Homo sapiens: one gene and its partners. The protein of the gene in region 1 interacts with the protein of each later gene in a biochemical or structural test. Each region holds a gene or a part of one and is shown on either strand. Other genes may lie near its edges.

What was found.
Region 2: of the proteins of PRKAR1A (region 1) and MAP1A, one has a biochemical effect on the other in vitro, tested with the Homo sapiens proteins (one study listed by BioGRID).
Region 3: the proteins of PRKAR1A (region 1) and AKAP10 form a complex in vitro, tested with the Homo sapiens proteins (one study listed by BioGRID).
Region 4: the proteins of PRKAR1A (region 1) and AKAP1 form a complex in vitro, tested with the Homo sapiens proteins (one study listed by BioGRID).

The regions. Positions count from the first base shown.
Region 1 is NC_000017.11:68,529,401-68,533,940, reverse strand, and holds the end of PRKAR1A (cAMP-dependent protein kinase type I-alpha regulatory subunit), read right to left. Parts: intron 4,022-4,540; coding exon 3,940-4,021; intron 3,665-3,939; coding exon 3,492-3,664; 3' UTR 510-3,491; downstream 1-509. UniProt on the Homo sapiens protein: Regulatory subunit of the cAMP-dependent protein kinases involved in cAMP signaling in cells.
Region 2 is NC_000015.10:43,520,598-43,527,635, reverse strand, and holds part of MAP1A (microtubule-associated protein 1A), read right to left. Parts: intron 6,996-7,038; coding exon of another isoform or gene 6,913-6,995; intron 6,665-6,912; coding exon of another isoform or gene 6,524-6,664; intron 6,313-6,523; coding exon of another isoform or gene 6,163-6,312; coding exon 1-6,162. UniProt on the Homo sapiens protein: Structural protein involved in the filamentous cross-bridging between microtubules and other skeletal elements.
Region 3 is NC_000017.11:19,932,792-19,939,829, forward strand, and holds part of AKAP10 (A-kinase anchor protein 10, mitochondrial isoform 1 precursor), read right to left. Parts: coding exon 6,922-7,038; exon of another isoform or gene 6,839-6,921; intron 3,640-6,838; coding exon 3,495-3,639; intron 1-3,494. UniProt on the Homo sapiens protein: Differentially targeted protein that binds to type I and II regulatory subunits of protein kinase A and anchors them to the mitochondria or the plasma membrane.
Region 4 is NC_000017.11:57,116,232-57,121,868, forward strand, and holds the end of AKAP1 (A-kinase anchor protein 1, mitochondrial precursor), read left to right. Parts: coding exon 1-30; intron 31-628; coding exon 629-696; intron 697-2,149; coding exon 2,150-2,223; intron 2,224-2,750; coding exon 2,751-2,813; intron 2,814-4,018; coding exon 4,019-4,093; 3' UTR 4,094-5,113; downstream 5,114-5,637.

The DNA of each region.
Region 1 (4,540 bases):
CCTAGGCTACATGGCAAAACCCCACCTCTACTAAAAATACAAAAAACTAGCTGGGTGTGATGGCACACATCTGTAGTCCCAGCTATTCCAGAGGCTGAGGTACAAGAATCACTTGAATCTGGGAAGCAGAGAGGCTGCAGTGATCATGCCACTTCACTCTAGCCTGGGTGACAGAGTGAGACCATCTTAGATAGACAGATCGATAAATAGACAAATAGACAGATAAAAACGTACCTTTGGGGACAAATTAAATGGTTATCTAGCCATTGCTTCTTGATGTTGTCTTAGCCCATCTAAACATACACTGCCAGGGCCTAACATAAGTACAAAAGGTTCAGCTATTATTTGTGGTTAGAGATAAAGTAGTATGAAGAAAACTGACATGCTACTTCAATTTTTAAATGTCAATATTTAAATCATTAAAAAATAAAAGAAACAAAAAAAAGAGTCTACTTGGGCCACTGTTTAGAGAGAATTCAACTATAACCAGGACTGTCAACCCAGAGAAATTTTCTTTAGTTACATTTTATTGTGACTCTAAAGGTTTCATACTCCAGAGGACGGGGGGAAGGGATTACTGAATCTAGAAAAGGTACACATGTTCAAAGCAACACAATTTAAAGAATGCTCTTCTAACATACAACATATCTCCAATTTCACTGGATGTGAAGAAATACCAATACACTAATGAATACAACTTAATCATCTCACTCCTCAGAAATCTAAGAGCATCAGAAATAAGGCTTTATATATGAGGCTTTATATATGCAAAATATAAAAGTATCCCTAAGTAACATTAAATGTATATATTAAATTTAAACCAAAGAGTATGCTAATCTAGAAATGATGTTTCCCCATTAAGTCTGGGAAAGTTCCAAGGCCACAGAACCAATCTGTCTTCAATCAAAAGGAAATCTTTAGCTTTTGACTGAATTTTTTTCTTTCCATGACTAAGTAAATAAATCTGCTACATCTCAATTACCCTTTAAGCAAGATTTTGAGATCCACTCTTTGACAAACTGAAAAGCACTGAAAATAAACATTGCTCTTTCAAAACACCGATCCCATAATTCACTTTCCCCCTTTTCATTTTTGCCCACCCGAGTAGACTTTCGGGGAAGGACAGAGAGAGGAAAGACGGAAAGGAGAAAGGGAAGAAAAACTGATTCATTTAAGAATTTAAATTATTTCATCTCTTTTTATTACTTGACCTACCATTAAGACAATCTATAACAAAAAAAGTATATTAGCACACATGGTATAATCAGACTGGTAATCAGGAAGCAATACAAAACGGTCCTTTGGCCATCTATACTTTCTAGAGCAGTAAATCTCATAAATTCACTTACCAAGCCCAGGAATAATGACTTTTAAAGCCTTGAATATCAACTAAGACAAATTATGCCAATTCTGATTTCTCACATATACTTAGATTACACAAAGATAAAGCTTTAGATGTGATCATTGTTTAATGTAGACTTATCTTTAAAGTTTTTAATTAAAAACTACAGAAGGGAGTAAACAGCAAGCCAAATGATTTAACCAAATGATTTAAGAGTAAAACTCACTCAGAAAGCATTATACGTAACTAAATATACATGAGCATGATTATATACATACATGAAACTGCAATTTTATGGCATTCTAAGTAACTCATTTAAGTACATTTTGGCATTTAAACAAAGATCAAATCAAGCTTTAAGCTTGTAAGAACGTAATTTTCATTTTTAATTTTTTAAATATAAAAAGGTAGCTAAACACAAAGTACAGATCAGAAACCCTCATTTAATATAGATTATTTTGGAAATTAAAAAATTTGTAACAAGGTGGCTTTCTTACCCACCCTAAAATGTAAATAAAACCTCTTCCCCAGATTTATACTTCATACTTGGTAACAACCTAAAAGTTTTTCAAATCTATGAAAAAAATCTACCATGACCAATTTAAATTACCTGGGAAAGGGCAGGAGAAGGGATCAATAACAGAGTCAGTTAGTTGCACACAGATGGAAAAATGCTTGCAGTCACTCCCAAATATAACCCTACATTACCTTATATATAAATCACAATGAAAATAAAAGTGCCTACATTACAGAACTGTGAAATTTTGTTTAAAAAAATAATAAAAATAAACTGTTGGGTATCATTGGAATAATGTAACACATAAGGCTGGAAAATACTGAAATACAGTTAAGACTCAATACACAAGTTTACTTTAAAAAAGAAAAGAAAGAAAAGTTTGCCAGAGAAATAAATGCTAGATAGGAAAGCAGGACTTTCAGCAGGATAGCCTTTCAGACCAATTTGAAGCAACACAGACACATTATACCCTACCATCAACCCACCAGAAATTCTAGCTGAATAAAAAGGAAGGAAAAAAAGACTAAACCAAAGTAAAAAACTTCTTCCAAAATCTCATGCCCCAGTGAATGTCACGGGGAAAATTCCCGACACTGAACTTTGTCCGCCTGGCATTTCTCCCTTTAGCAGCATCACCTCTATTTCTCTGTTAGGACATTTGCTCCATCTGTATCTAGTCACAGCAAATCCAATCTCCTGGAATCAGTTTAATGAGCAGAGGAGATTATACTGGAGTCAGCTGAAGGACATACTTTAACCAAACGCTCTAAATTAACAACCAAGAATGTAGACCTCAAATTCTTATTCTCAATTCAGCATCTGATCAATTATTTGGCACTAGCTGGATAAAGGTCTAATCGGAATTTGTGAGCCGAGGCAGATGTAGTTAAATACTAACCAATATTTGCAATCTATGAGTTAGTTTCAAACTTAAAAGGCAGGTATAGATAGCCATACTCAAAAGTATTTCAGAATTGGAGAAGAAACATTAATAACAAGATATAAATAAAACCAGGCAGATTAGCTTGGCAAACAACAACTCTGGAAAAAAAAAAACTGAACCAATCATATCCCATTGATAATTAGCAAAAATGGGCATTTTTCCACCCTTAAACTAGTTTAATTACAGGCAGATGTCTTTCTACTATACTAAGATTTTCTATATCCATTTTCCCTAATCTTTAGAGTTTAATGAGAAACCATTTATTCTACAAAGAAATACAGCATATATGGCCACAGTCTAAATACGCTTATAACTGGACAATTATGTCACTTAAAAAAAAAATCTTGCACTGTTACATCATTACTCTATGGTAATTCAATAGGTGCTGGGATCTGCCCTCACCAAAAAGCATGGCACTCACTGCCCAGGGTGAATACTAACACTGCACAAAGAGAAGCAGTAACAGCAAAGTCTCCATAGAACTCTTTCTATTTATTTAACTGTGTATGAGCATTTAGTTAATGCTCCAAATTGAAAATGGTGCAATAAAAGCAACTTTCAATATATAAACAGACAGGAAGCTGCGATGCCAGTGGCCACTTGGCGCTGCAAGTAGGGAAAATAAAGCAGTTTGCATGAGTGAAGCATGGATTGGGGAGAGGAGAAAAGGGAGGCACAGGAGGCAGATTTCAGACAGACAGTGACACAAAACTGTTGTACTGCTGGATGTTTCGTTTGAGGATGTCTGAGCATGGGCCAAGAACACGTTCAAATCTAGGTCGGTCCAGCTTAACGCACTTCAAGGGGCCACGAGCAACAACTGTGGCAGCACGAGGACGATTCATCAGTAGTGCAATTTCACCTGGAGAAAGCAAAGATGGGTAACAGGCTAACTTCTATGAAAAACATTTCCTTAAAGCAGTGCACTTCTGAGAAAGAAGACAATAGATATGAGACAATCAGTAATTTCATTAAATGAGTAAAGATCAAAATCTCACACCTTCCCTCTCAGAGCCAAAAAAGACTGCAGTTAGAAAATAAAATTCAGGAGAAGACAAAATTATGGAAGACTACAATATCTCACTGAGAGGTGACTTAAAGAAACCATGTATTTATTGTGAGGGAATTCATACATACCAAAATAATCAGAAGGCCCCAATCTTCCCACTTCAACAAACTCTTCATTTTCTGACCGACGTTGTAGCACAGCAGCTGACCCCTATAATAAAATCACCAAAAAGCTAAACAAACACACACTCTCAAACCCAGGGTGGCACCTTAAACATCCTATGCAATTTTAACTACCTTGCAAATGTGTGCATATGATAAAAAATGACTTTAAAGTTAGTCACCACATGAGCTTCAATTTCTATTTTACCAGCATCTCCTGCTAGCGAGGTTCTTCGTATCAAGCTAAGGTGCTTAAAGGGTGCACACTTGGGTTAGCAAACTGTAGATGAAGGGCTAAATCCAAGCTCACTGTCTCTTTCGCAAATCAAACTTTACTGAAATACCACATACATTCATTTACATATTATTTGTGGCTGCTTTTGCACTATGACAAGAGTTGAGACTTTGCGAATGAAACCCTATGGTCCACAAAGCTTAACTTACTTACCACCTGGCCCTTTACAGTCTCCTGACCCCTGATTTAAATAAAATCAATTAGCAACTATGGAGCCACATTCATAGAAATCTGCCACTTGGATCCGCTTAGCAAGAGTATCTGCTATACATT
Region 2 (7,038 bases), on another chromosome or scaffold:
CTCCATACTTGGCCCTGGCTCTGGCCTTGGGGGTACAGTGGGTCCTGCCAGGGCTGCATAGCTGAAGGTTGGAGTGTCAGACTGGAGGCTCTTGGGTGAGATAGGAGATGAAAGCTCCTTCTCTGCAGATGTGTTTCGGCCGGCAGCTGCCTCCTTGGTTGAGAGGCATGGGGGCCAATCCCCAGCTGCTCCAAGTGGAGGCTCTCTAGTGGGGCATGCAGGGCCAAGCCCAGTAAGCATCATCTGCTCATAGATGTCTGCATACTGAAAGCTTCTCTCATCAGGATAGGGTGTGGGCTCTCTCTGCTCCGGCTCAGTCTGCTCAGGCTCCGTGGTGGCATGGCTTTTGCTGGCCTCTGGTACCTTTGAGCTGTGTGAGCTTTTGTCAGGAGCCTCAGCCCTACCTTCTTCTTCCCTTTCCCCTTCAGCCTTGCGGTAGTCCTTCCCCAGGGGGGAGTATGGCCCACCTTCCAACTCAGCTGCCCCCTCCTGCACTGCAGCCACCACACTGTCATACTCGGCTGTGCCCCAAGAGAAGGGTGCAGGAGTATGGGATTCCGGGGCAGGTGTGGGGGGACCAGGAGCTGGGGAGAGGGGTGCAGGGGGGAGGGGTCTGTCCTTGGGCACCCAGGGTGGGATGTCAGCCAGCCATGAGGGAGTAGTGGGTTCATTCTTCATGTGTGGCATGAGCTTAGGGTCTGGGATAGGACTCTCTTGTCCTGGGGCTGAAGGAACCCTTTGTCCAACCATCTCAGGTGGGGAAGCTGGAGGGGAGATGATCTCAAAGGGAGAGCGGGTCAGTTTGTCCTCTTCCTCTGGTGGCAACCCAACTGGTGATTCAGCAAGCCAGCGCTCCACCTCTAGCCCCTTCTGTGGTGAGGATTCCTGGAAATCCTTGAAGTCTGAGGCCCAGGGGCTCCGGGTTGCGTGTTCCCGCAGGGGTACTTCTTGCTCATCATCTGGGCCCTCATCTAGGAAAGTGCTTTCCCGTTCCTCAGTGTAGTGTGGGCGGGCCCCCTGGCCATCCAGCTCGTGAGGGAACCAGACCTTCCGCTCACAGCTTAGCTCCCTCCAGTATGTGTCCTGTTCCAAGGCCACATCCTCTCTGCCCCTCCAATACCTATTGTCCTGCTCAGGAGATGTGTCCTCCCATGCCGGGGCAAGCTCTTTCTGTTCTCCAGCCGGCTCCTCTCTGGTAGGAGATGTTTCTTGCCACTCCTGGACCACATCCTGCCCCCTCCAGTACTTTTCTTCCTGCTCTCTGGCCCTGCCCTCCTGCACTAGGCTCTCTTCCAGGCCCAGAGCTTTGGTCTTCTCCAGAAGAGCTTCTAACTTCTCTTCCATGGCCTTGACCTTTTCTGGGGATTTTTCCTCTAGCATCTTTGGTTTCCTGGTTTTATCCTCCTGCACTAGGCTCTCCTGCTCCTGAGTTTGGTGGTTCTCTTCCAGAGCCTGAATGTTTTGTTCCAGGGCTTCATCCTTCTGTCCCAAAGCCCAGTATTTTTGTTCTAAGGCCTGATCCTTCTTTTCTGAGACTTTATCCTTTTGTTCCTGGGCCTGGTGTTTCTGTTCAGGGGCTTTGTCTGTCTGTTCTAGGTCTCTGTCCTTCATTTCAGCGACCGTGTCCTCCGGAGCCTTATGTTCAACACTTCTGACTTTTTGATCTAAGGCTTTGTCTTTCTCTTCTGGGATCTTCTCCTTCTGTTCTAGGACCCTGTCCTTTTGTTCCAAGTCTTTATCTTTTGGTTCCAGGGCCTTGTCCTTCTGTTCCAGGGCTGTATCCTTTTGTTCTAAGGCTTTGTCTTTCTCTTCTGGAATCTTATCCTTCTGTTCCAGGGCCTTGTCTTTTTCTTCTAAGTCTTTGTCTTTTGGTTCCAGGGCCTTGTCCTTCTGTTCTAGGGCTGTGTCTTTTTGCTCTAAGTCTCTGCCCTTTTGTTCTAAAGCCTTATCCTGCTGTTTCACAGCCTCATTCTTTACATGCAGAGCCTCATCTTTCTGATAGATGGCTGTATCCTTCGGCTCTACCACCTCCTTGTGCTCCAGAGTTTTGTCTTTCTGCTGTAAAACTTCATCCTTTGGCTCAGGTTCCTTCTTCTGTTCTGAGGTTCTGTCTTTCAACCCTGGAACTTTATCTTCCCACTTTATGGCAATGTCCTCCAAGGCAGGGCCTGGCAAAGACTCAGGACTCTTGGAGAAGGAGCTATCAGGTGTCAGAATGTGTTCATCAGGGCTTGTGATCGCCCCAGGTAAGTACTTCCCATTTCCTGAAGGTGTAGAGTGAGAGAATGAGCTGGCAGGTGACTTCCTGTCAAGGCTGTCATCTGTGATGTCTGTCTGTGCAGAGTATCGAGTTGTCCCATCTGTGGGAGGTGACGCTGTGGCTGCATGGGGCTCTGGAACAGACATGGGAGCTGTGTGGTGAGAGGTATCCTCGGCCTGCATCAGATGCCCCATTTCTTCCTTCCCAAGGTTTAGTTCCCCAAACTGGAGGGTGCCAAGGCTTTCTGGAGAGAGCTGCTTAGAAGAGACATCCAGGGAGGTCTCCTTGCTGGGACTCTCTTCTGACAGAGAAAGTGACTGGGTGTCTTCTGGAGATACCTCTGGCCAACGGTCTTTGTGTAGGTACTGTTCTGTCAGGCCACAGGGAGACTTGGGGGTAGGCTCTTGGTTGGCAGTGTCTGGGGAGGGCACGCTGAGGACAGAGAGGGATTCTGCATCTTCAGGAGAGAGGCTTCGGTCAGGATATCTGAGCACCTCATCTTTCTGAGGTTTGCCAGGTTCTTGGGGTAAAGTCCTCAAACCTCCGGGAAGGGCTTCTGCTCCCAGAATTGGGCCTGTGGGCTCTCCTGCCTCCATAATCTCAAAGACTATTGCTTTATCCTGTGCTGGCAACAGTTGAATGGTACAGCCTGTAAGCCCCTCATCAATGTTGACAGGTGCTTCCTGGGCCTGGGGGCTCCTGGGAGGAGGAACTTTCTCTTCCTTCTCTAGTGTGCCCTCTTCAGGCCCTGGCTTGACTGTCTCCTCAGCAGCATCTTCTTTGCCCACACCTGGTGTGCGCTTAGTGTCTCCCCAGGAGTCTGCCTCCTGAAAGTCTTGGGGCTCAGACTTTTCTTCCACTGGGGACTGATGAAAGGGTGTGTGGGTGGCACTGGGTGGGCCAGATGGTGGAGGAGAAGCCATCTTCACTGTGCTGTCATCTGGGCTAAGGCACCGCTCCTCTGCTTCTCCAAGGGCTGGTTCTCCTGGATGTAGGGCATGCCCAGGGGCACTAAACACTGGAGTTCCATATTGACTGCAAAGTTTCTCAGACATCTCTACGTTTGCTGTCTCCTCCTCTTCCTCTTCCACAGCTCTCTCTCCAGACAAGCCTTTCCCTATGATCTCTCCTCTCTTCTCTGACTCCCCAGTCACAGAGAAGTCCTCACAGGGTGGTGATTTGAAGCCCTTGTCTTCTTCCAGTGAGGAGGTGGGTGAGATGGTACCAGCTGATGGCACATAGTCCAAGCCCTGCGTAGCTTCAGTACGGGAGGAAGGGATGCTTGTGACTGTGTCAAGCAGCAGGGAGCTCTTGCCTGTCTCCTCTGTCTGGGGAGCTGTAAGTGAGGCCACAGATTGGTCCTCAGCCACTGATGTGGCAAAGGAAGAAAGTTTGTCACACTCAGTGATTGAAGTGGCCGAGGACACATGTTCCTCTTCAGCCAAAGGGGCAGCCACTATGTTAGTGGGGTAGGTGAGTTCAGTCTCTGGCGTTCCATAGACTTTGCCAGAGGTAGCAGGAACAGCACTATCGGCAGGTTGGCTGGCTTCGAATGGGCCAGCACCTTCAGGCCCGGGCAGGTCATATGTACTTGTATGAAATCTGGGTGGAGCTGGGCGCTCCTCCGGCTCATCATGGATCTCCTCATCTGAGATGGTCTGCTCAGTCTCTGAGTAGCCAGGGATTGTCTCATCCTGGATGTAAGAGACATGCTCAGTGGCTCCTGCAGGTGTGGTCAGGCTGCTTAGGAATAACGAGGTCTCCTTCTCAGGGGCCTTGCCCTGGAGTCCCAATTCCCGACCCCCAAAAGCCTCCCGGCTCCTTGGAGTTACCTTCAAGGGTTCCTGCATATGTTTTTGGTAAAAACCCTCAGCTTTTGTCGCGTCCTCTTCCTCCTCATCTGAAGGGTGTACCTCCTCCATTTCTTCTAACTCAGCCTTTTCTATCACATCCTCCTTTACTTCAGGTTCACTTTCCTCTCTGGCTTCTGTTCTGTCTGGGAGCCTCTCTGCTTCCCTCTGCTTCTTTTCCTCCCAGGTATCTTTCTCTTCCTCTGTTTCAGCCCCAGAGTCTAGGCCTCTGTCCTTGCTGCCTTGTTCCTCAGGGACCTCTGGGACAAGCTCTTTCTCCTTCATCACATGTTCTTCTTGTCCCAGCCCTGGAACAGAGGGTGGTGTTCCCTGGATAGCTGTACTTGGGGGTCCCTCCTCTGCAGTGTCTAGAGGGAATGGCTTATCTCCTAGTCCTGTGTCCCTTTGTTCAGCCAGCAAAGCCCTCTCCTCACGCTTCATCTCCTCAAAGTCCTGTGTGAGGTCCTCTGGTGAGGATAGGACCAGCTCCCTGTGCCCACTGATGGTTGGGAGTGGTACAGTTCCCTTCTGGGCTGGGGGTGTCTGGGGCTCAGAAGACAGCTCCTTCTCCCCACGGATAGCACGGCTCCTGTCTATTTTGACTCTTCCAGGGACCTTGGCTTTATAGAGGGTCTTACGTACCTCAGGAGTAAAGGGCTTTAGGTCTGGCTTGGAAATCTTCTTGAGCTCAGGTTTGGTATCTTTCCTCTTCTCCTCCTTCTTGGCATCCTTCTTCTCCTCCTTCCTTCCTTCATCCTTCTTGAGCTCTTTCCTCTCCTTTTTGATCTCTTTTTTCTCCTTGTCTTTTTTTTCTTCCAGCTTTGATATCTTTTCTTTAAGGTGCTTTTTCCCTACCTTGTCTTTGATCAGCTTTCGCTTCTCTGCCTTCAGTGCCTCACTTGACTCTGTCTTCACCCTCTCAGGCTTGGCAGGCTTCTCTGGGGGCTTCTCAGATGACTCTTTTGCCTTCTTCTCTGTCTTGGCTAACTCCTTGGCCAGCTCTGAACGTGCCTCCTTGGCTCCCTCTTCTACCACCTCCTCCCGTTTGGCCAACTTGCTCACGGCCGTCTTGGTAGTGGCTTTGAGGCTCTCCTTGCTATCAGCCCGCTGTTTGATTTTGCTGGGCTTGAGGTTGGTAGGCACAGCCCCAGAAGCCAGGTCCTTCTGCGTGGCCACAGGGTAACGCAGGAAGTCCAGATGCCGAAGCTTTTCTAGGCCCTCCAAGATCTTGTTTTGGGGAGCATTTCCTGGAAAAAGCACACGCACAATCTTCTCAGTGGGATTGGCTGGTAGCCAGACCACCAGAGCAGTGATAGAGGTAAGGTAGGGCACGGAGATCTCAGCCTCCTTCCCATTGGGCAGCACGATGCCTGTCTTGGCTTTACTATTGCCTGCCCACTTTTGCATGAGGAACTGCATCTCCTTGCTGTCCTTGACAGGGTTGAGGACATACATGTCCAGCCGGCCCACACCCATTTTGTGGAAGAGGGTCAGTGGCTCAATGGTATTGCTGACCACACGATATAGAGGCTCAGCCTGGATGCCCAGGCGGTTTAAGTGCTGCAGAGTGAGGCAGGCCTCCTCAATGCTACGCTTGGCTTTCCGGGAGGCATCAGGAAGCCGCAGCTTCTCAGGCACGTTGAAAAAGACAACTCCAAGCTCAGGAGAGATAAGGTTCTTCACCCAGTCGCTGTAACTGCTAGAGCCCTGGGACTGCTCCTCCTCTAGCTCTGCCACTTTGCGCTGCAGTAGTCCATTGATGCCTGGCAGGTTGTCTGCCCCAATGTGTGTGAGTAGCACCGAGTCAATGCGGTCCAAGTGCCGTACCAGCTTCCAAAAACAGGACTTGCGATCAGAGCCACCATCCACCAGGATGTTGAAACCATTGACAGCAAAGAGGGCAGAGTCCCCACGACCACCTGGGAAGATGTAGCAACAAGGCTTGGAGAGCTTGAGGAAGCCCCCTGAGGTGGGGGGCTCTAGTAGGTCAAATGGGGATGGCACGTCCACAGTCTCAGAGACATACTCGGAGAACTCAGCCACGCCGTCCATGGTGGGCAGAGTGGGCTCAGGGTTTAGCCGGAGGTGCAGGGTCTCTTGGGAACTGGATAATCCCAGGTGGCTCCAATCACCTTCCCCTAAGCAGGACACGGTAAGGAAGGCCTGTATCCCAGGGTCTCTATTGCTGAGCAATTGGGAAATCTAGAAGAATAGGAGATAGAAACCTGATCAGGTCACTAGAGTTGTTTTGGTCTGACTTAGATTCAGTACCCTAATCTTCACCTCTTTCCAAGGTGGACTCTTACCTTTCTGCCAGGGCCCCCCATGGTCATGCAATATGAGACTTTCCCTTAGATCCCTCCCACAGCTCTAGTGCTACCCTTTCTCCCAGACACTCTGGCATGGAACTTACCTCGGGGTTGTGAAGGACCTGGGCAAAGTTTTCATATGAGTAGGTGCCACTCTGTAGGATGAGGTCTCCCCCAGGCTCTAAACTTTGCCCACTCAAGATTAGTAGTTTATAAGCTGATGAGCTGCTAAGAAGATGATGAACCTGGAATGGAAGAAGGGGAGTGGTCACAGATATAGGAAATCCAGGGAAAGGCAATGAATGGCCCCTCAGTACCTCAAGAACATGCTCCCAACTTATGTCCCTCATAACACCTCCAGAGTGGGCTGGAGACAATACGTCAGCTTAGATGGCAGAGAGAGGAATTCTTGGCCTAATAGTGGTAGCACTGGCAAGGGTGGGTATAGCACTTGCACCAGGCCTGTTTGGCAAGGCACAGGCCCTGGCCTTACCTCAGAGCTGATGCTGTCTGCACTGGGATTTACCAGGATGATGGTCTCTAGGATCTCACTCTGGTGGCAAAGGGTCCTCTGGCCTGAGGGAGAGATGTAGGAATTTATATTGAGAATAGGTATAGA
Region 3 (7,038 bases), about 49 Mb from region 1:
TTGTTTTTTTTTCAAATAATTCTTAAATAAATGCCTAATTGTACATAGATGTTTTTATTTACATTTAATAATTATTAATTATACTGAATGAGTTCTCATGTTTATTATTTATATTTCTAATTCTACGAAGGAAAAGTTTGTAACTGGACAAGCAAATAATAAACATGAGAACTTATTCAGTATAATTTGTAAATATTTATGTTCGTATTTAATACGTGCCTTTGTTGTTTGTTTTTGTTTTTTTGAGACGTATTTTCGCTTTTGTCCCCCGGGCTGGAATGCAGTGGCATGATCTCGACTCACTGGAACCTCTGTCTCCCAGGTTCAAGTGATTCTCCTGCCTCAGCCTCCCGAGTAGCTGGGATTACAGGTGTCCGCCACCACACCCAGTTAATTTTTGTATTTTTAGTAGAGACGGGGTTTCGCCATGTTGGCCAAGCTGGTCTTGAACTCCTGACCTCAGGTGATCCACCCGCCTCGATCTTCCAAAGTGCTAGGATTACAGGCGTGAGCCACCGTGCCCGGCCAATATGTACCTTTTTTGTAGACTAAGCTCCAGGATAGCAGAAACACATTTATTTTGTTTACCACTGTAACACTACCATCTAGCACAGAAATACTCAAAGTTTTTGTTGAATGAATCATTCATGTCTTTTTTCCTACCTAACTACCAGGGTCTTGACAGTGTTCTTAAAATTAGTCTAAGTTCCTTACATACACACATCTAGTAAGAACTATTTTTGCATTTTTCTCTCTGCATTTTAATTTTATTACCCTGAAAATTTACATTCTTTATATGATACAGATCTGAACTTTTCCTTTAAAATCAGAAAAGGTTTAATTTTAATCGTGAAAATATTATCATCATTGGGTAACAGCTGACACTCTATTCTGTTTACTACTAGCTATTTAATGATTTGACTTCTATATGTCATTCTTCAGTATTCCTAAAATTCAGTTTTTATGTATGGTATTATATAATAGCGTTTAATTAAGTTTTTTCACCTGGATACACATGACACATACAAGCAACATAACCTCACTGGCTCTGAAATTCCTGGAAAAATCTCCTCTAGTTCATTAGAAGAATAAATCATTCACAAACATCAATACTTTACTTTTATTTATTTATTATAATTATATTTTTGAGACGGAGTTTTGCTCTTGTTGCCCAGGCTGGAGTGCAATGGTGCGATCTCAGCTCACTGCAACCTCTGCCTCCCGGGTTCAAGAGATTTTCCTGCCTCAGCCTCCTAAGTAGCTGGGATTACAGGCATGCACCACCACGCCCGGCTAATTTTGTATTTTTAGTAGAGATGGGGTTTCTCCATGTTGGTCAGGCTGGTCTCAAACTCCTGACCTCAGGTGATCCACCCACCTCGGCCTCCCAAAGTGCTGGGATTACAGATGTGAGTCGCCGTGCCTAGCCAACGCTTTATTATTAATAAGCTATTAATAATACCTTGTGATCATAATACCCAAAACTAGGGTTCCAATCCTGTTGACAGTTACTGGTGATATATGTGGATCATTTCTAAGCTAACGTTGCGGCATAATGCCTTCTTTAATTGTTCAAGACAGGGTCTTGCTCTGTCACCAAGGCTGGAGTGCAGGGGCATGAACACGGCTCACTGCAGCCTTTAATTCCCAGGCTCATGCAATCCTCCAGCTTCAGCCTCCTGAGTAGCTGGAACTATAGGTGCATGCCACTACGCCCAGCTAATTTTTGATACTGCTCTCTAATTATTTAAAAATACGTAATAATAATAGTAATAAAAGTAGTTAACATTTTTTGATGCTTACCATGTGTCAGGTACTATGTTAATATGTATTTTATATACATTACCTTACTTTAATCATCAAAGTAACTTTGAGGTAAACGTGCATATTATCGTCACTTTACAGATAAGGAAAATGGCATTAGAGAATTTCAGTTACTGCCCAGGCATGGTAGCTCATGCCTGTAATCCCAGCACTTTCGGAGGCCAAAGCAGGCAGATCACTTAAGGTCAGGAGTTCGAGAACAGCCTGGCCAAAATGGTGAAACCCTGTCTCTACTAAAATACAAAAATTAGCCAGGTATGGTGGTGCCTGCCTGTAATCCCAGCTACTTGGGAGGATGAGGCAGGATAATTGGTTGAACCTGGGAGGCAGAAGTTGCAGTGTGCCAAGACTGTGCAACTGCACTCCAGCCTGGACAATGGAGTGAAACTCTGTCTCAATCAATCAATCAATCAATCAATCAATAAACAGAATTTCCGTTAGGCTGCTTGCCATTGTGCTAACATCACAGAGTGTACTTATACAAACCTAGATGGTATGGCCTACTACACCCCTTGGCTATATGGTACAACCTATTGCTTTTGGGCTACAAACCTGTATCACATGTTACTATAATGAATATCGTAGGCCACTATTGCAATGGTAAGAATTTGTGTATTTAAACACAAATACAGAAAAGGCACAGTAAAAATACAGTATAAAAGATAAAAAATGGTACATCTGTATAGGGCACTTACCATGAATGGAGCTTGCAAGACTGGAAGTTGCTCTGGGTGAGTCAGCGAGTGAGTGGTAAGTGAATGTGAAGGCCTAGCACATTATTGTACACTACTGTAGACTTACACTGTACACTTAGGCTACACTAAATTTATTTAAAATTTTTTTCTTTAATAATAAATTAGCTTACTGTAACTTTTTAACTGTTTTACTTTTTTTAGCTTTTTGACTCTGTTGTCATAACAGCTTAAAACACAAACATATACAGCTGTACAAAAATATTTTCATTATATCCTTATTTTATAAGCTTTTTTCTATTTTTAATTTTTTTTTTCTTTTTAAATTTGTTTGTTAAAAACTAAGACAAACACCCACATTAGCCTAAGCCTACACAGGGTCAGGATCATCAATAACACTTTCTTTCACCTCCACATCTTGTCCCACTGGAAGGTCTTCAGGGGCAGTAACACGCATGGAGCCGTCATCTCCTTTGATAACAATGCCTCCTTCTGGAAACCTCCTGAAGGACCTGTCTGAAGCTGTTTTACAGTTAACTGTTTTCTTAGTAAGTAGAAGGAGCACTCTAAAATAATGATTAAAAGTATAGTACAGTAAATATGAGGCAACAGAGATTTTTCAGCTCCATTATAATTTTTTTTGTTTTGTTCTTGGTTATTCTTTTATCTTTTTAGTTTTTCTTTTTTCTTTTTTACTTATTAAAATTTATTTTTTCTAACTTTTGTTATTATTGCACTACCAGCTTTGATCCATTATAATCGTACAGGACCATCGTACACGCAGTCCACTGTTGACTAAAATGTTATGTGGCACGTGACTGTACATACCAGGCCAGACTCAAGGCCTCTGCTCTTAATCACTTTGCTGGACTGCTTCAATTTCCACTGTGCTATTCTGCTTGGTTTTCCCACCTTATATTTTATGAGTTCTACCAATAAAACTTCTTGTAGTTTGATACGTTTGAAGTTCTGGGTTACCTTCTCCATGGTTGTCCAGGCCTGACGTAATGGAGTTGTGAAACAGTTGGGGAGTGGCCCACCTTCCCTGCAGATATTGGATTCAATTTCTAATCGTACAACATCATCAAATCCAAGAGGATGTGTGGCTTGGAGGGAGAAGTACCTATGGTAAAAAGATATCCGAAGTAAAATCAAATTCCATAGCAAGTATAAGCAACTTTCAGCACCTCCTCCAGAGAATCTTATACAAGGCTACTTGATTGAGCCTGCAGGCCTAGAACTATAGAGCTATGTGATGACAGTGCTGATGTAACCTTTCTTTGTTCCCACTTCCCCAGAGATAGTTGGGTCAACTTGCTACCTTTCTATCTGCCTGCCAACCATCCTTAGTTCTTGACGGTGAACTCTACTGTTGTTTAAAAGCTGTAAGGATCAGACTACAACTGAGGCAAAGAAACTAACAATCACATATTTATGGGTACCTATTCTCTGTTGAGGACTTGATAGATAGAAAGGAATTTATAGGAAAGGAAGACATGGTCATTTTCCCTAAAAAGCGAGCTGAGAACTTGTATGCACAGAATAAAATAAGAACACATCATCATAACTACAAGGCATCAGGAGTAAACATGTACAAATTCAAAACAAAACAGCACTGAGGGGTGAGCTAGATGCATATGACCTATTTGGATAGAACAGGACTTACTGATGACTCGGTGTGGAAAGGGAGTAACCAATATTGATAACACAAAGATTTCTACCTTGATGGGGTATAATGCAGGTAATGTTTTGGTAAGCTGATTATGAAATGAATACCAAAAAAAGCATTAAATGCGAGAAAAAAAAAAAGGCTCTCTTCCAAGCACTCTAATGGTTTCTATGTCCTGACAGAAATACAAAGGTTGATAATGCATGATTATGATGATGCATATATATGATACAAAAACAAGCAGGCTGGGCACAGTGGCTCACGCCTATAATCCCAGCACTTTGGGAGGCAGTGGTGGGTGGATCACTTGAGGTCAGGAGTTCAAGACCGGCCTGGCCAACATGGTGAAACCCTGTCTCTACTAAAAATACAAAAATTAGCTGGGCGTGGTGGCCCCCACCTGTAATCCCAGCTACTCAGGAGGCTGAGGCAGGAGAACCGCTTGAACCCAGGAGGTGGAGGTTGCAGTGAGCTGAGATCGTGTCACTGCACTCTAGCCTGGGTGACAGAGCAAGACTCCATCTCAAAAAATAAAAAAGAAGAAAAAAAAGAAAACTCTCCTTTTAAATCAGCATTTTTGTAACAAAATGTGAATCTCCTATGTTGTATTGAGTAAGTTGGTCAATACTCCTCCACGACTTGAATGTTCAGGCATTTTAGACCAAATTTCTAAATGTAAACTCTTCCTATCTCAACATCTATATAACAATGTTTCTTACGTAATACCTTCTACAAACATACTGTACCAGAATAAACACTGGACAGAACATTAAGAACTGCATTCCAGTCCAAATTCTGCCACTAACTTGTTCTGTGACTTTGAGAAAATCATTACCTCTCTGGGCCTTATTTTCCTTACTTGCAAAATAGGAAAATTAGACTACATCCCTAAACTGGCTATTTATCAGAATTATCTGGTATGTCTTCTAAAAATAAAGATTCCTGGTCACACCTCAAACCTGCAGAATCAGAATTTCTGAGACAGGGGGACTGGAAACCTTTTTTTTTTTTTTTTTTTTGAGATGCAGTCCTCTGCCTCCCGGGTTCAAGCAATTCTCCTGCCTCAGCCTCCCTAGTAGCTGGGATTATAGGCACCCGTCAAAATGCCCAGTTAATTTTTTGTAGTTTCTAGTAGAGACAAGGTTTCACTATGTTGGCCAGGCAGTTCTCAAACTCCTGACCTCAAGTGATCTGCCTGCCTTGGCCTCCCAAAGTGCTGGGATTACAGGTGTGAGCCACCGGTACCCAGACTGAAAACCTATTTTTTTTTTTTTTTCTGAGACAGAGTCTCCCTCTGTCAGCCAGCCTGGAGTGCAGTGGCATGATCTCCGCTCACTGCAACCTCCACCTCCCGGGCTCGAGCAATTCTCCTTCCTCAGCCTCCTGAGTAGCTGGGATTACAGGTGTGTGCCATCATGCCTGGCTAATTCTTGTATTTTTAGTAGAGACGGGGTTTTACCATGTTGGCCAGGCTGGTCTTGAACGCCTGACCTCAAGTAATCCGCCTGCCTCAGCCTCCCAAAGTGCTGGGATTATAGGCGTGAGCCACCGCAACCAGCCTGAAAACCTATTTTTAATAAGCTCTCAGGTGATTCCTATGCAGACAGCCCAGCAAGAGCCCACAGACTAATGTTCAGGAACCACTGGCCTAGATACTATTAGTGTCTTCAAACCCTAACATCTGTGGACTTTTCTCTATCCCCAAGTTACCCCTTTAGCATTTGCTTAAGGATACAAATAACAAATTACCTTTGTTGTTTTTTTTTTTTTTGGAGACAGGGTCTCACTCTACTGCCCTGCCCAGGGTGGAGTACAGTGGATCACAGCTCACTGCAGCCTCGACCTCCCAAGGCTCAGGTGATCCTTCTGCCTCAGGCCCCTAAGTAGCTAGGACAACAGGCGCACGCCATCACGCTCAGCTAATTTTTGTATTTTTAGTAAAGGCGGGTTTTGCCATGTTGCCCAGGCTGGTCTCAAATTCCTGGGCTCAAGCGATTCACCTGCCTCTGCCTCTCAAAGTGTTGTGATTACAGGAGTGAGCCACCGTGCCCGACCACGAATTACTTTTTTTACAGAGTAAGAAAAGTTAAATGAAAAGAATACCATACGTTACAGAGCTGGCCACAAGCTCATCATCTGCCTGACCAGATATTTTCAATTTTGTTTACTGTATGATGTTTCCATCCTCTCATTTTCAGTGAAAACTAATAAAAAACTAATTAACAACGTGCCTGAGCAGATTTATACAGAAAGTATAATATACCCATAAATAGGCATTCAAGGTCCCTTACAATCTATTCCAATTAGTACCAGCATCCTCATATTTATTCCCCACTCCTTTGATTATCTAAACTCAAGTTTCTTGAAAGTGCCACTTTCCCCTACGTTTCCATGGCTTCTGGGCCAATGCCTTTGCCTAGAATGTTGTTTTCTGCCTTCTCTGGGTAGCAAAATTCCCTTCTTTCTTTGGGATCCAAACAAAATCTCTCTTCTGGGAAACACTCCTTGAACACCACCATTGCCATCCTGTTTACCCCACATACACCTCCCCTTTCCCAGCAGAAACTTTTGTTCTAAGAACCCCCAAAGCTTTACAAACACCATATAAAAGCAGCTTTTATGCTGCCTCCTGTGAGCTCCTTGACAACAGAGACTGAGTTTATTCATCTTTATTTCCACAAAACATATCAAATGTTCAATAAGTATCTGCTGAATCCATCTATCAATATAACTCACTTGTCATATAAAATCATGGCATCATTCTGTGCCTCCTGTCCATCATATTGGCCCTTTTTGGCAGCAAGCTGAGACTGGAAGTTATCTGCTGCCAACCAGAATTGTAAGATATTCACT
Region 4 (5,637 bases), about 11 Mb from region 1:
GGTGAAAGTAGACGTGCTCCGGCAAATCAGGTGAGCGGAGATGCCTCAGGCAGGCCTACGCCCTGCTTGTTCTGGGATGCGTGATCTCTGCGTGGCTGGCTCAGTTGTGCCAGGGCTTGGGTGAGGGTTACTTCTTCCCTCCTGCTGCCTACTGTGTTTTAGCAGAGTCTGATAGAAACAAACTCGATTACTCGCTTAGCCAAACTGAGCTAGAAGGCCTGTATTGTGGAAGAATCCCCAGCATCATCCTTCAAAAGTGAAGCTGGGCCAGGCGTGGTGGCCTGCTGCAAATCCCAGCGCTTTGGGAGGGTCACTTGAGTGCAGGAGTTCAAGACCAGACCGGGCAGTATAGCGAGACCTCATCTCTACAACATCAACAAAAAAGGAAAAAAGTGAAGCAGGCTCCTTTTTAGGAATTTGTCATAGGAAGTCCCTCTGAGGTCAGGCTTGCAGCAGGGTCGGCTGGCTGTGTTTGGGTGTGCTGTGAGCCGTGGCCTCCTGCAAAGTACGAACCCTCTGCTTTGCTGCATCCCAGGTTATGGGCGTCACTGTACAAAGATGAATACTGGCTTGGAGTGGAGTCAGCCTTCATGTCCACATTAAACTTGTTCCTTTCTTGCCTTCCCAGGTCTGACTTTGTCACCCTGCCGTTTCAGGGAGCAGAAGTCCTTCTGGACAGTGTGATGCCCCTGTCAGGTAACAGCTGAGGCCTTTGGCTTGGGGGATTGTTGGGGACAGTTGTTGAGAGTAGGTCTTTCTCAGAGCCTCCGTTCTCACCTGGAGGATTTATGCTAACATAAGTTGCTACCACTCAAGAGTTTCTGACTGAATAGGTCTGGGCTTAGGCCCAGGAACTTACATTGCTATCAAGTTCCCAGGTGAGACCAGTGCTGCTGATCCTTTGAGATCCACTGCTCTAGACTGTACTCAGACCTCAGGCATCAAGGGGCTTCCAACAAAGGCACTTTCCAGATTATAGTCCAGACCCAGAGTCTTAGCCCCGGTGGTTGAGGGCGTGCTGGTCACTGATACTGCTCAGCCAGGCCATAGCTCCATAGGGCACAGTGGGGACACCCTATCTGGTGTCTTAGACTATGAAAGCATTGTCAGAGGGAAGAGGACTGGCAAAATCTTGGGTAAATGACTTAGCCTCAATTTTCACCCCAGAACATGGGAATGGTACCTGTCTTTGATGCTGGCTGTGAGAATTACATAAACCTAAGATCTGGTGTGTAGAGGGTGGCGAAATGGCAGCTGTTTATGGCTAGGAATTTTATATTTGTAGGTGATAGTTCATCCCATCCCACTCCCTCCCCAGGTTTGCCCCTTCTGATCTCCTTCTTGCTTGTCTTAAGCGATTTGCATGCGTTAGAAATACTACAGTCTAGCTGGAGTCGGCTTAGAGGGAGCACTGGGGCAAGATCTTTGTTTTGCTTCTTTTATTGCTGTTGCCCCTCCTTCCTCTCTGCTTCTGTCCATCTAAGCGATCTGTCCAGACCCAGCTGAAACTTTCTCCTTCGTAAGATTTTCCCGGATCTTCCTTGGTAAACCCCTGTCTCTCCCATCCTTGCCACTGCTTGCCTTGGGTATGGTGTTCTATGTAACTTTTGTAATCCAGCAAAGCTGAATGCTGCCGCAGCGCCTTGCCCACTCTGAGTGGCTGGCCTTATTGGGCTGTGTGGCCAACTGCCTGGGTTTGATTCCCACCTTCACCACTTGGGAGCTGGTTGACCTTCAGGAATCCACCTTTGCCTCAGTGTTCTCTCCTGTAAAGTGGGGATAGCACTTGGTGTTACTAATTTTGTGGAAGAACACATATGCTCTGCACTGCCAGCATCCGAGTTGGTGGGGGTGGGGGTGGTGCTGCTGCTGGTGGTATTGGTGGTGGTGTTAGTGGTGAAGTTTCTGTCCATCTGTTGTCTGTGCTGCACCAGTGGGCAACATGCAGTAGCGGCCCTTAGTTTATCCACTGGGAGTCATATGGAGGCCTAGGCTCTGTCTCTGACCTGGGTGGATCTCCCCAGTGCAGTTCTCAAGTTCCACAGCATCTGAAGCATTCTACTTGGAATGCACCTGAAACTTGTGTACATGACAAGGGTGCCTTGCCTCAGTGAGAGCCTAAATGCCGCTTTTCCTTTTCCTCCTGAAGACGATGACCAGTTTTCACCGGAAGCAGATGCCGCCATGAGCGAGATGACGGGGAATACAGCACTGCTTGCTCAGGTGTGTGGTTGGCAGGGGTGGGGGAGGCAGGCTGGCTGGGTTCTTGGGAACTGACCTTTCAATGCCTTCTTTCCTGTGGCTTGGCCCTGGATTGACCAGCAGTATTTAAGGAAAGGTGCATGAAGTAGCTAATACTTGATATTAGTCTGTTCTCACATTGCTGTAAAGAAATACCTGGGACTGAATAATCTATAAAGGAAAGAGGTGTAATTGACTCACAATTCTGCGGGCCTGGGGAGACCTCAGGAAACTTACAATCATGGCAGAAAGGGAAGAGGCACGTCTTACATGATGGGCAGGCAAGAGACAGTATGTGAAGGAGGAACTGTCAGATACTTATAAAACCATCAGATCTCATGAGAACTCACTATGACGAGAACAGCATGGGCACACCGCCTCATGATCCAATCACCTCCCACCAGGTCTCTCCCTCGACACATGGGGATTATGGAGATGACAATTCAAGATGATATTTGAGTGGGGACACAAAACCTAACCATATTATTCTTTCCACCCCCCTTCTTCAGGTGACAAGTTACAGTCCAACTGGTCTTCCTCTGATTCAGCTGTGGAGTGTGGTTGGAGATGAAGTAAGTTCTGCCCTTCTTTTCCTTCTGTGTTGCTGGCCCGAAGTAATGGATTGATTAGGAGCTGGTCCTGGGATTTGTTTCCTCTTGAGTTAATCAGAGGATATAACTGTAGACAAGCACCTCCTAGGGAACACTTTGGATGTCCTGATTGGCAGTGGTGATGTCAGTGTCCTCTAGTGGGTAGAGGCCAAGGATGCCACTAAACATCCCATAGTATTCAGGACAGCCCCCCACAGCAAATAATTATCCAACCGCAAATGTCAATAGCGCCAAGGTGGAGAAACCCTGTGCGAGACTTTCTGGGACCTTCTGTCTGTTGAGTTTTTCTGTCCTCTATCTTATGGTATGAAAGCTTAGATTTCTTCAGCATATTAAAAAGCCTATCCTGGCCAGGTACAGTGGCTCACCCCTGTAATCCCAGCACTTTGGGAGGCCGAGACGGGCAGATCACTTGAGGTCAGGAGTTTGAGACCAGCCTGGCCAACATGGCGAAACCCCCATCTCTACTAAAAATGCAAAAATCTGCTGGGTGTGGTGATGCACACCTGTGATCCCAGCTGCTTGGGAGGCTGAGGCAGGAGAATCACTTGAACCTGGGAGACGGAGGTTGCAGTGAACCAACATTGTGCCACTGCACTCCAGCCTGGGTGACAGAGCAAGACTCTGTCTCAAAAAACAAAAACAAAAACAAAAAAACCCTATCCTTATGCCACAGCAGCCAACAGAATACTTAAATAAATGTTCCTGTTGGCTAGAGCATAAGCCATGTCCCCCACCCTGTTACTCTTTTTTTTTTTTTTTTTTTTGAGACAGTCTTGCTCTTGTTATCCAGGCTGGAGTGCAGTGGCGTGATCTTGGCTCACTGTAACCTCCGCCTCCGGGGTTCAAGCGATTCTGCTTCAGCCTCAGTAACTGGGATTACAGGTGCCTGCCACCACACCTGGCTAATTTTTGTATGTTTAATAGAGACGGGGTTTCACCATGTTGGCCAGGCTGGTCTCGAACTCCTGACCTCAGGTGATCCACCTGCCTCAGCCTCCCAAAATGCTAGGATTACAGGCATGAGCCACTGCGTCTGGCCTACACTGTTACTCTCATACATCTGTTGCCTGCAGTGGCAACCGGGGAGGGGAGAACTCATGTTGGCTAGGGAGATGGCCCCAGGATGCCATGGACAAAAGCTTTAAGGGAACTTTCTTTTCTAGGTGGTGTTGATAAACCGGTCCCTGGTGGAGCGAGGCCTTGCCCAGTGGGTAGACAGCTACTACACAAGCCTTTGACCCCCATGCTGCTTCCTGAGAGTCTTTTTTTGCACTGTTGAAATTGGGCTTGGCACTCAAGTCAAAGATGAACATCGGAATAACAAACATTGTCCTCTCCAGAAAGTCCTTTCTTTCTCCATACTGTAGTCCTATTGAGAAGACATTTCGTCTCTGAGAAAAAAGGATGGAACTATGGGTTCTCTTCGCAAAGCCAAAGGATAGTGTTTAACAAGCCAGCTGGCTTATGCTGGTTCTCAGCTGTTTAAAAAAAAAAAAAAAAAGGAATAGAAACAGTTTCAACCAGATTGTCCTATTCCCCCTGTTCCATTCCCCTCTTCTTCCTTCTATCTCCTTCCCCGGCAAAAACCAAACAAACTGGCAGACAGGCCAGGGATGTATGTTGCTTGCTTGAGAGGGTTTCTTTTACTTCAAAATCTTTCTTCAGGGAGCAAGACATGAACTGACTAATTGGTATCCACTACTTGTACAGCTTACATAAATGAGTTGATGATATTTAACCAGTTTTTATAAACTTCATTTAGGTCTCTAAACACAGACTTTTTAAATTGCAACTGTAAATATGAAATGGTCATCACATCTGACCTTGGTCAGTGGGGAGGGGAACTGGTATCCTGCCAAGCCTGGTTGTAATTTGTAACCATTTTCTATTTGTGCAAACTCTGTAAATATGTGTTTAAACAAATGTAATATTTTGTACAAGATACACTGGAGAACAAAGGGAACTCAAGATTCTTCCAGCCACATGTCACCTGTAGGTAGAAGTAAACTCTGCAGTGCAGCTTCTGCTCTTGGCCCCTCTGGCCAGGGCCCCTGTGGCTTCCTGCACACTGGACAGGTGACTGTATGGTAGAGACTGTGATCTGGGAACTTTTTGCTGTACAAATCTGTTTAAAAAAAAAAAAAAGTAACTCATTGAATTAACTTGCAGTGGTGTGTTTGATTCTTTTTTAGACTGGCTTCAGCATTGTGCAGTTTAAAAATAAGTAAGTAACTTACATAAATCTTCAATTGTATGAACTGCAGCTTTGAGTCCATTTTTTTCCAGTGGTGAAGAATTGGCGGGGGGGGGGTGGTGAGTGTGGCGAGCTGGATCACAGGCCCCACACAACTGCCTCTGCAGGAGACCCATGGTTTTTTGAAGACAATTTGGCCAGAAATTTCTATCTGGCCTTTTCCTCTCTCTCCTTGTCCCACCAGGTGGCAGCCAAGCGTCCTCCGACTTCTTCACTGCATGTTAACTGGCCAGACTCAGTTTAAAGCACTGGCTTCCAAAACGGGTTGTGCCTTCTTTGGTTGTCATTCTTAATAGATTCGTGAAGTTATTTAATTTACTGTAGTGATAAGAATGATGTAAAAAATACATGTAAGTTATGGGATGAGATACTGCCTCAATTTAATAGCCCCTGCTCTTAAAGAAGGCTGGCCACTGCAGCCCAGGCCTACCCCAGTGCCCCGCCCCTGCCCCCTACGTTTGAGGCCTCTGGCTGCAGGGCTGTTGAGCTTGAGCTCTAGTTTTTAGAGAGCTGACGTAGCCTGAGGGT